Linked DNA regions of Homo sapiens: region 1 is linked to region 2. The links come from fine-mapping of genetic effects on gene expression. A gene starts in region 2. The other region holds a variant in brackets. All regions are shown on one strand. Distances are from middle to middle.

Region 1 (5,000 bases), 570 kb after region 2:
GTATGAAGTTTGGCTGGTGTTCAAAACAATGAGTAAAATCTCCACTAAAATATATCACCTGTATATATCTTGAGGGCTTATTATGAAAGGGACTTGGTACACAAGGAAGCACATGTTGGGGTTTTTCCGCAAAGCTACTTGGAGTAGAACTATATATGATGGATGATTTCAGGGGCTTATGATCTTAACATTGTCGATTTCCTCCCCATTTTCTGTAATATTCTGCATCATAAGTGTGAGATATAATCATAGAATTTCAGTGTTGGAAGGCCAGACAGATCATACAAACTAACATCCTTCTTTTGCAGCTAAGAATAACAGAGTCTAGTAACGTTAGATAATATTCCTGGGCCAGGCGCGGTGGCTCACCTGAGGTCAGGAGTTCGAGACCAGTCTGGCCAACATGGTGAAACTCCATCTCTACTAAAAATACAAAAAATTAGCTGGGTGTGGTGGCAGACACCTGTAATCCTAGCTATTCAGGCACCTGAGGCAAGAGAATTACTTGAACCTGGGAGGCGGAGGTTGCAGTGAGCTGAGATCGTGCCACTGCACTCCAGCCTGGGCAACAAGAGCAAAATTCTGTCTAAAAAAAAAAAAAAAAGAAAAAGATAATACTGCTAAGGTCACAGAGTTCAATCCAATGCAATTTGGATCTCATCATTTGACTAAGAAATCCTCTTCTAGGTCACACATGACATTAGGTTGCTAAATTCAGTAGAAATTTTAGCTCTTAACTTGCTTGTTTTAGCAGTATCTAATGATGTTAACGACTCCCTCCCTTTGTAAAAAGTTTCCCCACCAGCTTCTATGATGCTTCTAGCTTTTCTTTCTGTCTAGACCTTCTAATTTCCCCTCATAAGCTATTCTTCCTCTATTCATCCCTTAAAAGTTTCTAAGTGCTTTGTCCTAGGCCTCTGTGCTTCTCAATTCACACACTCTCTAGGAAATCTCACGTCCTCCCAAAGTCTCATGTAAATGCTGATGATATCCCAAGCCTATATTCAATTGTCTGCTAGAAATTGGGTCTCCCACAGCCATAACTGAAACTCAAAAGTCCTAAAAGTGAATCCATCTTCCCTAACCACCCATAATCTCAACCAATAACACCACCATTATTTTATTTTTGACCAAGCCAGAAAATTACCTGGCATCCTTGACTATTCATAGAGCCAGAATCTGACATTCCTCATATCTTATCAGTCATCATGTGCTTTCATTCGATTTTTTTTTTTTTTTTTTTTGGAGTCTTGCTCTATCACCCACGCTGGAGTGCAGTGGCAGAATCTCAGCTCACGGCAACCTGCGCCTCCCAGGCTCAAGCGATTCTCCTGCCTCAGCCTCCCGAGTAGCTGGGATTACAGGTGCCTGCCACCATGCCCGGCTAATTTTTTTGTATTTTTAGTAGAGACATGGTTTCACTATGTTGGCCAGGCTGGTCTCGAATGCCTGACCTCGTGATCCACCCGTCTCGGCCTCCCAAAGTGCTGGGATTACAGGTGTGAGCCACCAACCCCGGCCCTTTCATTCTATTTTTTAAACAGCTCTAAGCCCTCTGATACTGTCTACACTACCACCATTTTAGTCCAGGCCACCACCATCTCTTTCTTCTATCAGCTACATTGTAATTGGAGTCCTTAATTCCAGCCTTGCTCCAGTTCAATTTTCCACACTGAAGCAGGGTGATCTTTTTCCAAATGAAGCCACTATCCTGAAGTTGGTAGTTGGTGTTTACCATTTCCATCCATTTATACATACACACACGCACAGGCAGACACACACACACACATACACAAACATATATCTCAATACACAATATTTAGTACTGTGATAGCCAGCCTTCAAGAAGGCTCTCTATAATTCTTGCCTGTAAGTATTTGCTATGGTTTGAATGTCTCCTCCAAAACTCACCTTGAAATTTAATTGCCACTTTAACAGTGTTGAGAGGCAGGACCTTTAAGAGGTGATTAGGTCATGAAGGCTCTGCCCCATAACTGGATTTTTGCCATTATCATAGGAGTGGGTTAGTTACTGGGGGAGTGGATTCCTGATAAAATCCACTCCCAAAAACGGTGAGTTCAAGTC[A/G]ATTTCCCCTCTCTGTCTTCTGTGCACACTTCCTCACCATGTGATGCCTTCTGACATGTTACAATGCAGCAAGAAGACCCTCACTAGATGGACTCCTCGATCTTGGATTTCCCAGAACTGTAAGCCAAATCAATCTTTTCTTCATAAATTACTCAGTTTGCAATTGATATAGCAGCAAAGAAATGGACTAAGATAGTATAGATGCCTCTTGACTTATGATGAGATTACCTCTGCATAAACCCACTGTAAGTCAAAAAATGCATTTACTACTCCAACAAATCCATCATAAAGTCAAAAAACCATAAGTTGAACCATCAGAAGTCAGGGATTGTCTATATTCATGCCCTGTGTAGTGTCACCCACATCAAATCAGGGCTGGTCTGCAGAACCAATATGATACAGCTGAAGTGATGATGTGTACTTCCAAGACTATGTCATAATAGGCTTTACTTCTGCTTTGGTCTCTTGTACACTTGCTCTAGGGGAAGCCGGTCATCATATCATGAGGACAATCCTGCAGCCCTATGGAGAAGCCCACATGGAGAAGTGGTACCTTCTTGACCAAAAGTAAACTTGTCAACCATGTTAGTGAGTCACCTTAGAATCAGATCTTCCGGCCTCAGTCAAGCCAGATGATTAAGGCCCTGACTGACATGGGGCTGCACCCTCAAAAGACTACAAACTGCTCAGCCAAACTATTCCTAAATCCCTAATCCACAGAAACATGAGAGATAATAAAAGATTAGTTTATGCCCCTTTGTTGTAATTTGCTGTACAGTATTAAATAACCAAATATAGTATGACTTTGCATATATTTATATTTTATAGTAATATCTCCTATACATGGAGGATATGTTCTAAGACTCTCAGTGAATACCCAGCTGCAGATAGTACAGAACCCTATATATAGTATTTTTTTTGCTATACATACATACCTATGATAAAGTTGAGGAACTACCTATTTCTGGCTTTTGACTGGGGGCTATGCTTCCCAGCCTGTTAGAATGGCCACCCTGAAGGTTGCAACCCTTTATGAGAAATGAAGTTCTCCTTTCCAAATTTATAAACCTTGGAATTCTTCAGTTGACACGAGTGGCCTATGAGGATGGGATCTGTGGAGAACCCCAGGTTCCCCCAACTTGATCAGAAATCATTATACAGGACAGGTGCGGTGGCTCATGCCTTAAATCCCAGCACTTTGGGAGGCCGAGTCGGGCAGATTACTTGAGGTCAGGAGTTCTAGATCACCCTGGCCAACATGGCAAAACTCCGTCTCTAGTGAAAAAGTGCAAAAAATTAGCTGGGCATGGTGGCGTGTGCCTGTAGTCCCTGTTACTTGGGAGGCTGAGGCAGAAGAATCGCTTGAACCCGGGAGGCGGAGGTTGCAGTGAGCCCAGTTTGCACCACTGCACTCCAGCCCGGGCGACAGGGTGAGACTTCGTCTCAATAAAAAAGGAAATCAATACACTGACATCTAAAGCTCAGCTGTCTCCCTGACCACACTGGGAGGAAGTTTCCCTGGATCTAAGATCTCCTACTTTTAGGTAGATTTTGGAGGCTTTATTCCTCTCCATTTGGATTATTCCTTTCCACTCCTTCCCTTCATTGCTTCCTGGTCCCTTCCCAGTCCCTATCCTGGTTCCCTCCATCTGGACCCTAAAGGGAACAACTTTGTTAGCTCTGGCTTTGAGGGGTGGGAGGAGCCTTCCCAGGCCAGTCAAACATTTTCATTTTCAAAAAAGAAGAAAAAAAATTTTTTTAAGTTTAATTTATAAATTAGGCAAAATAAGAGATTATCAGAAAGAACTAAGAAAAAAATAGAACAATTAAAACAACATGCCAGCATCACTACTCTTGTACATGGGGGGTTAGTATTAAGTAAAATAAGGGTTACTTGACCACAACTGCTGCAGTACTACAACAGTCAATCCGGTAACTGAAACAGCTACTAAGTGACTAATGCGCGAGTAGCATATAAAGCATGGATATGCGGAACAAAGGGATGATTCACATCCCAGGTGGGACTGAGCAGGAGAGCACAAAATTTCATCACACTACTCAGAATAGCATACAATTTAAAACTTATTAATTGGGCCGCGTGCAGTGGCTCACACCTGTGATCCCAGCACTTCGGGAAGCTGATGCAGGCAGATCACTTGAGGGCAGGAGTTTGAGACCAGCCTGGCCAACATGGTGAAACCCTGTCTCTGCTGAAAATACAAATATTAGCTGGGTGTGGTGGCAGGCACCTGTAATCCCAGCTACTCGGGAGACTGAGGCAGGAGAAGTGCTTGAACCTGGGAGGCAGAGGTTGCAGTGAGCTGATATTGCACCACTGCACTCCAGCCTGTGACAGAGCAAGACTCTGTCTCAAAAAAAAAAATTGTTTATTTCTGGAATTTTCCATTTAATATTTTCAGACTGCGGTTGCCTGTGGGTAACTGAAACTATGGAAAGTGAAGCCATGGAAAAAGGGGTGGAGGGGAGACTCCTATATATAAAGGATCATGGTGTATACAAACCTCTAAAACTTGCCTTTTATGATAATCATTGCTTTGAGGTTTATCAAAGTTGGATCGTATTTCTGGAAATATTCACTTAAACTCCTATATATAAGGAAGTGGTAAATTTTAAAAAAAGAAAAAAACACTCCTATATAGAATTTCATTCTATGAATACATTGCTTAACGACAGGGATACATTCTGAGAAATGCATCATTAGGTGATTCTGTCACTGTGTGAACATCATAGATAATATTTACAAAACCTAGAAGGTATAGCCTACTACACACCTAGTAGGTATCTAGGTATTGCTCTTAGGCTACAAACCTGTATACCATGTTACTGTGCTGAATACTGTCAGCAACTGTAACACAGTGGTAAGTATTTGTATATCTAAACATTTCTGAACACAG
Region 2 (5,527 bases):
TGGTCACAAGCTTGGTATGTTTGGACCGAAGGCCACTGTGTTCAGAGGTTAGTGATTAAGGAAAGTGAAGGCCAGGCGCCGTGGCTCACGCCTGTAATCCCAGCACTTTGGGAGGCCGAGGCAGGTGGATCACGAGGTCAGGAGATCAAGACCATCCTGGCTAACATGGTGAAACCCCGTCTCTACTAAAAATACAAAAAAATTAGCTGGGCGTGGTGGCAGTCACCTTTAGTCCCAGCTACTTGGGAGGTTCAGCCAGGAGAATGGTGTGAACCTGGGAGGCGAAGCTTGCAGTGAGCTGAGATTGCACCACCGCACTCCAGCCTGGGCGACAGAGCAAGACTCCGTCTCAAAAAAAAAAAAAAAAAAGTGAAAAGGGATTAGATGAGCGATGTAGGCAGGGACCAGATTATCTAGGGCTTAATAGACCATCAGGAGTTTGGATTTTATTTTATTCTGGTTCCAGTGGGAAGCTATTAAAAAAGTTTAATCACGGGAATTACATGACCCAATTTATTCTTTAGAAAGATCACTCTGACTCAGGGTTTCTTAACCTCAGCACTATTGACTTTTTGGGCTGAATAATTCTTTGTGTAGGGACTGTAGGCATTGTAGGATACGTACCTTGTTTAGAATCCTTGGCTTTCACCCACTAGATGCTAGTAACCCCACCACCTCCCCTCAGTTGTGACAAACAAAGATGTCTCCACACATTGTCAGGTGTCCCTGAGGGACAAAATTACTATTCTAATGGAACAAAAAGGATATGAACTTAAATACCAGACTCTGGGCCAGGCGTGGTGGCTCACACCTGTAATAATCCCAGCACTTTGGGAGGCCGAGGTGGGTGGATCACCTGAGGTCAGGAGTTCGCCTGGGCAACATGGCAAATCACCGTCTGTATTAAAAATATAAAAATTTAGGCCGGACGTGGTGGCTCATGCCTGTAATCCTAGCACTTTGGGAGGCTGAGGCGGGTGGGTCATGAGGTCAGGAGATCGAGACCATCCTGGCTAACACAGTGAAACCCTGTCTCTACTAAAAATACAAAAAATTAGCCAGGCGTGGTGGTAGACACCTGTAGTCCCAGCTACTCGGGAGGCTGAGGCAGGAGAATGGCGTGAACCCAGGAGGCAGAGCTTGCAGTGAGCCGAGATCGTGCCACTGCATTCCATCCAGCCTGGGCAACAGAGTGAGACTCTGTCTCAAAAAAAAAAAAAAAAAAAAAAAAAAAAAAAGCTGGGCGTGGTGGCGGATGCCTGTAATCCCAGCTACTTGGGAGGCTGAGGCAGGAGAATTCGTTGAACCTGGGAAGCAGAGGTTGCAATGAGCTGAGATTGTGCCATTGCACTCCAGCCTGGGCAACAGAATGAGACCCTGTCTCAAAACTACAAAAACAAACAAAAAAAAACCAGACTCTGATACAGTGGGATGTTCACATTAGAAGCATGATGGCTCTTATTTCACATGAACTCTGGAACATACCATGGCCTTCAGAGATGTTGACCAGGTATGGTGGCTCATGCCTGTAATACATCCAGCACTTTGGGAGGCTGAGGCAGGTGGATCGCTTGAGGCCAGGAGTTCGAGACCAGCCTGGCCAACATGGCGAAACCCCATCTGTACTAAAAATACAAAAAAATTAGCTGGGCGTGGTGACATGCCTCCCAGCTACACGGGAGGCTGAGGCATGAGAATCGCTTGAACCCCGGAGGCAGAGGTTGCAGTGAGCCTAGATCGCACCACAGCACTCCAGCCTGGGTGACAGAGCAAGACTCTGTCTCCAAAAAAATTAAAAAATTAAAATGGTCCAGTTGAGTACAAAAAAGAAGATCAGGAAGAGTTTATTGGAGCAAGACGGAGATGAGCAACCTTGAAAACAAGTCTAATTAAGATGAGTAATTGTTAAAAGATGAGCAGTGCTTTCTAAGCAGAGGTAGCAGGAGGAAAGGGTCTCCGATCCTGTAACGCCTTTTATGCCAGGAAGAAAGGATGAATTGAAAGGATGAAATGGCAAATGTCGTAGTAGACTATTGGACTATTCCTGCAGCTCAGGAAAGTGGGCTGGAAATAAGAGGTTTGGCAAATACCCTGTTATGGTGGTATTTAAGGCAGAGGGAGGGTTTGGAACGAGCTCACAAAGGGAACTCTAGAATGAACAGAGTAGGCTTCTCAGGGAAGGCTTAAATCCTGGAGGTCTCTGGGGTAGGTAGGACAGAAAGTCCTGTTATTTTCCAGGTAGACAGACTGTTGGGCGCCGGGGAATTAATGCTGGTCACCTAGAGAGTTGTGCATTTTGTCTACCATTGTTAAATGAGGCAATGACCTGCCTCAAATACTTTTCACTCCACACACCTATTTGGAAGCCACGTATATTTTGCTTGCTCTTCCCATTTAAAATCGTAATCCACTCTATTCCACCCCCATGAGGAAGCTTTTGGGTAGAAAAGTGTGTAGAGGAATAAGTAAGTTGATGTGCATCAGATGTGCAAACTTTAGTGTGCATCAGAACCACCTGGAAGGCTTGTTAAAACAGGTTGCTGGGCACCACCCGGGGAGTTTGATTCAGTAGGTCTAAGGTGGAGTTCAATAATCTGCGTTACTAACACGTTTCCAGGTGATGCTGCTGTTCGGGGGACCACACCCAGAAGCTACCTTTTACCACTCTAAAAGGTAGCTGATTGGTTTTCTCTGTAATATAAATTCCTTAACGAGTTTAAAATATTGATCTGAGCCCTCGTAATTGCCTCAAATGTTTAATGCTAATGTGTGTTCAATGCTGTAGCCACGAGGGGAGCCTAAAATCACCTAACAACTCCTTTCGGGAGTGATTTTGATTAGTTCATCTACAGTTCCAACTAAGATTTCCCACAAATATTACTTTCACAGGAGGCTAACAAAAAACGCCGTCTTTGTCCCCAGAAAATACCTGGAGGACGGTATTTCAGAGGCGGGGAGGCTGCACCAGCCTCCCAGTCTCAGCCCTTCTCTACCGCCCGCCACTGAAGGGGCCCCGGATACCCCCAGGACTGCTGCAACTTCCTAGGTGACTTGAGGCAGCCTTAAAAGGGATTGGTGCAGGGTCCTTGCGACAGATAAATGTGATTAAAAATCCGCTGGGCCACCCGAAGGGAGAGTCTTTTTCCCTCAGGTGGCGCCTAGGGGCGGGACTGAGGGACAGCCCGCTCCCCGCAGCGCCCTCTCCGGCTCCGGGGGTGTTCCCGGCTGCAGCCGCGATCCTAACGGGCTCGCGAGACGCCCCGCCCACCCTGGGCCCGCCCCCGGCTCCATCTTGCGGGAGACCGGGTTGGGCTGTGACGCTGCTGCTGGGGTCAGGTGAGGAGCGGCGCCCCCCTCCCTTTCCCACCTCGTCTGCCTCGGTGGTCTTGCCCTCGGCCAGCTCTGGGCGCTGCTGTCCCGGTGCTAGTGGGGCGCGGCTGGAGGGCAGTGTGGGCCTCCCGGATGGCGGCGACTCGGTTTGCGCGTCTCGTAGCCGGGCTGCCGGCCGGGGTGTGTTGGGGTGGCGTGGGTGAGGCGGCCGGCCTGGCTTACGGGAAGCCCTTCCGTCCGTTTGGAAATCCCAGGGACCAGTGGCGCCCCGCCCTCGGGCAGGTGGAGGGGCTGAGGCCGGAGCGTGGCCCAGCTGCCTCGCGGGAGGCTGAGTAGGGAAACGCACGGGCAGTGCTGAAAGCCGTCTGGCTGGTAGTGGCTGTACTTTCCGGTGACACAGCGAATTTAGGGAAACTTGGGGAAATTTTTACTGTGTTTAGTGAACCGTAGGACAGAATGCGCCAGGCCAAGGTCGTACACTGGTTCTCGTTTACAGTTCTTGGAAGCTATTCTAGAATAGCATTCCAGATTTGATTGCTGTTCCCCGACCAGCAGCAAATCTGTGTTGAAATTAGCTCATCCTGTGCAAACACTGCGCAAGGAAACCAAGGTGCAGAGGTAGATGGCTGATGTCCACCGTAAAGTGACAGACATGACGCTGTTGTCTTCCGACTGCCGTAAACGCCCTGATTTTTGCCAGCTGATGGCCAGCTAATCTGCTAAATGTGTCCGAATTAGATGATGAGTGTAATGAGTTACCTTCCAGGCAAGGAAAGAGTTTCAAGCACTGAATAGGTAAAAGAGATAATTTTGGCCACTGCAAACTTTCAGTCCTTTTCAGTGAGGACTGTCTTTCAGTCCTCACTGGTGGTTGGCTACCTACCTGTCCGTGCAGAGGACTAGCCATGCCTCCATGTTCTTTCTCCACATCACTGACGGATTTAAATGATCCTACCATACCTAGAAGCCGGTTTTGCAAAATTGTATTCGCTGTTGCGCGTATCTTCAGTCACCCTTCCTGTTTCGTGTATTTTTTCCCCCATAAATTTGCAACAGCTGCCTCTTGGGTTCCTGGGCTTCATGCCATCAATGAGAAACGGTGAGACCCAGCCCTTTTACTAACTGACTCACTGGGTGGAGGTGGTTTGGAAAACCAAAAATGATTTTCTAGTCTTTTAAAAGTGATTGCTAACAGAGAATGTTTAAAAAAAAAAAAAAAAAAGCCCGAGCGCGGTGGCTCACTCCTGTAATCCTAGCACTTTGGGAGGCCGAGGCGAGAGATTCACGAGGTCAGGAGGAGTTTGAGACCAGCTTGACCAACACGGTGAAACCCCGTCTCTACTTAAAAATACAAAAATTAGCTGGGCGTGGTGGCGCGCGCCTGTAATCCCAGCTACTCTGGAGGCTGAGGCAGGAGAGTCGCTTGAACCCGGGAGGCAGAGGTTGCAGTGAGCCAAGATCGCCACTGCACTCCAGCCTGGGCGGCAGAGAGAAACTCTGTCACAAAAAAAAAAAAAACCCAAAAAACTCTAGACTTACTATTCACTTGGGCAAAGTTGAGAAATTTTTTGAGTCACTCTGGGTGTTATTTAGCTTTTTACAAAAACGTTTAAAATCTGCCTCTTGAATAAATGATATATGTACAATTCTAAAAGGGCTAAAGTACATTGAAAAGTAAGTCTCGGCCGGGCGCAGTGGCTGTCGCCTGTAATCCCAGCACTTTGGGAGGCCTAGGCGGGAGGATCACGAGGTCAGGAGATCGAGACCATCCTGACTAACACGGTGAAACCCCGTCTCTACTAAAAATACAAAAATTAGCCGGGCGTGGTGGCAGGCGCCTGTAGTCCCAGCTACTCAGGAGGTTGAGGCACAAGAATCTCTTGAACCCCGGAGGCGGAGGTTGCAGTAAGCTGAGATCGTGCCACTGCACTCCAGCCTGGCAACAGAGCGAGACTCCATCTCAAAAAAAGAAAAAAGAAAGGTAAATAGTCTTCTCCATTGTGTCCCAGCTCTTCATCCAGGAAGCAGTCACTGTTTTCTACTTCCTTGAGTGTCCTTTCAGGGATATTCTATAAGTCAAAATCAGTGCATTTTTTACACATAATGGCAGCACACTATGCAGTTTTTCACTTTGCCTTTTTTTTTTTTCATTAATACGTGTTATAGATGGTTTCATATATGGGTAAAAGAAAAAGCT

What was found.
Region 1: its variant is fine-mapped to the expression of ANXA7 in whole blood (TOPMed, PIP 0.97).

Annotation. Positions count from the first base shown.
Region 1 is chr10:72,845,520-72,850,519 of GRCh38, reverse strand. All of the region lies in intron 2 of MCU (mitochondrial calcium uniporter), which reads right to left. Among named protein-coding and RNA genes, the nearest start is that of OIT3, 46 kb to the left of the region's middle. The variant A/G (reference allele first, on the strand shown) is at 2,086.
Region 2 is chr10:73,411,821-73,417,347 of GRCh38, reverse strand. ANXA7 (annexin A7) reads left to right here and starts at 3,290. Exons shown (of 13, transcript NM_001156.5): 1 at 3,290-3,336. RefSeq lists a silencer at 3,107-3,666 and enhancers at 4,067-4,146, 4,157-4,276.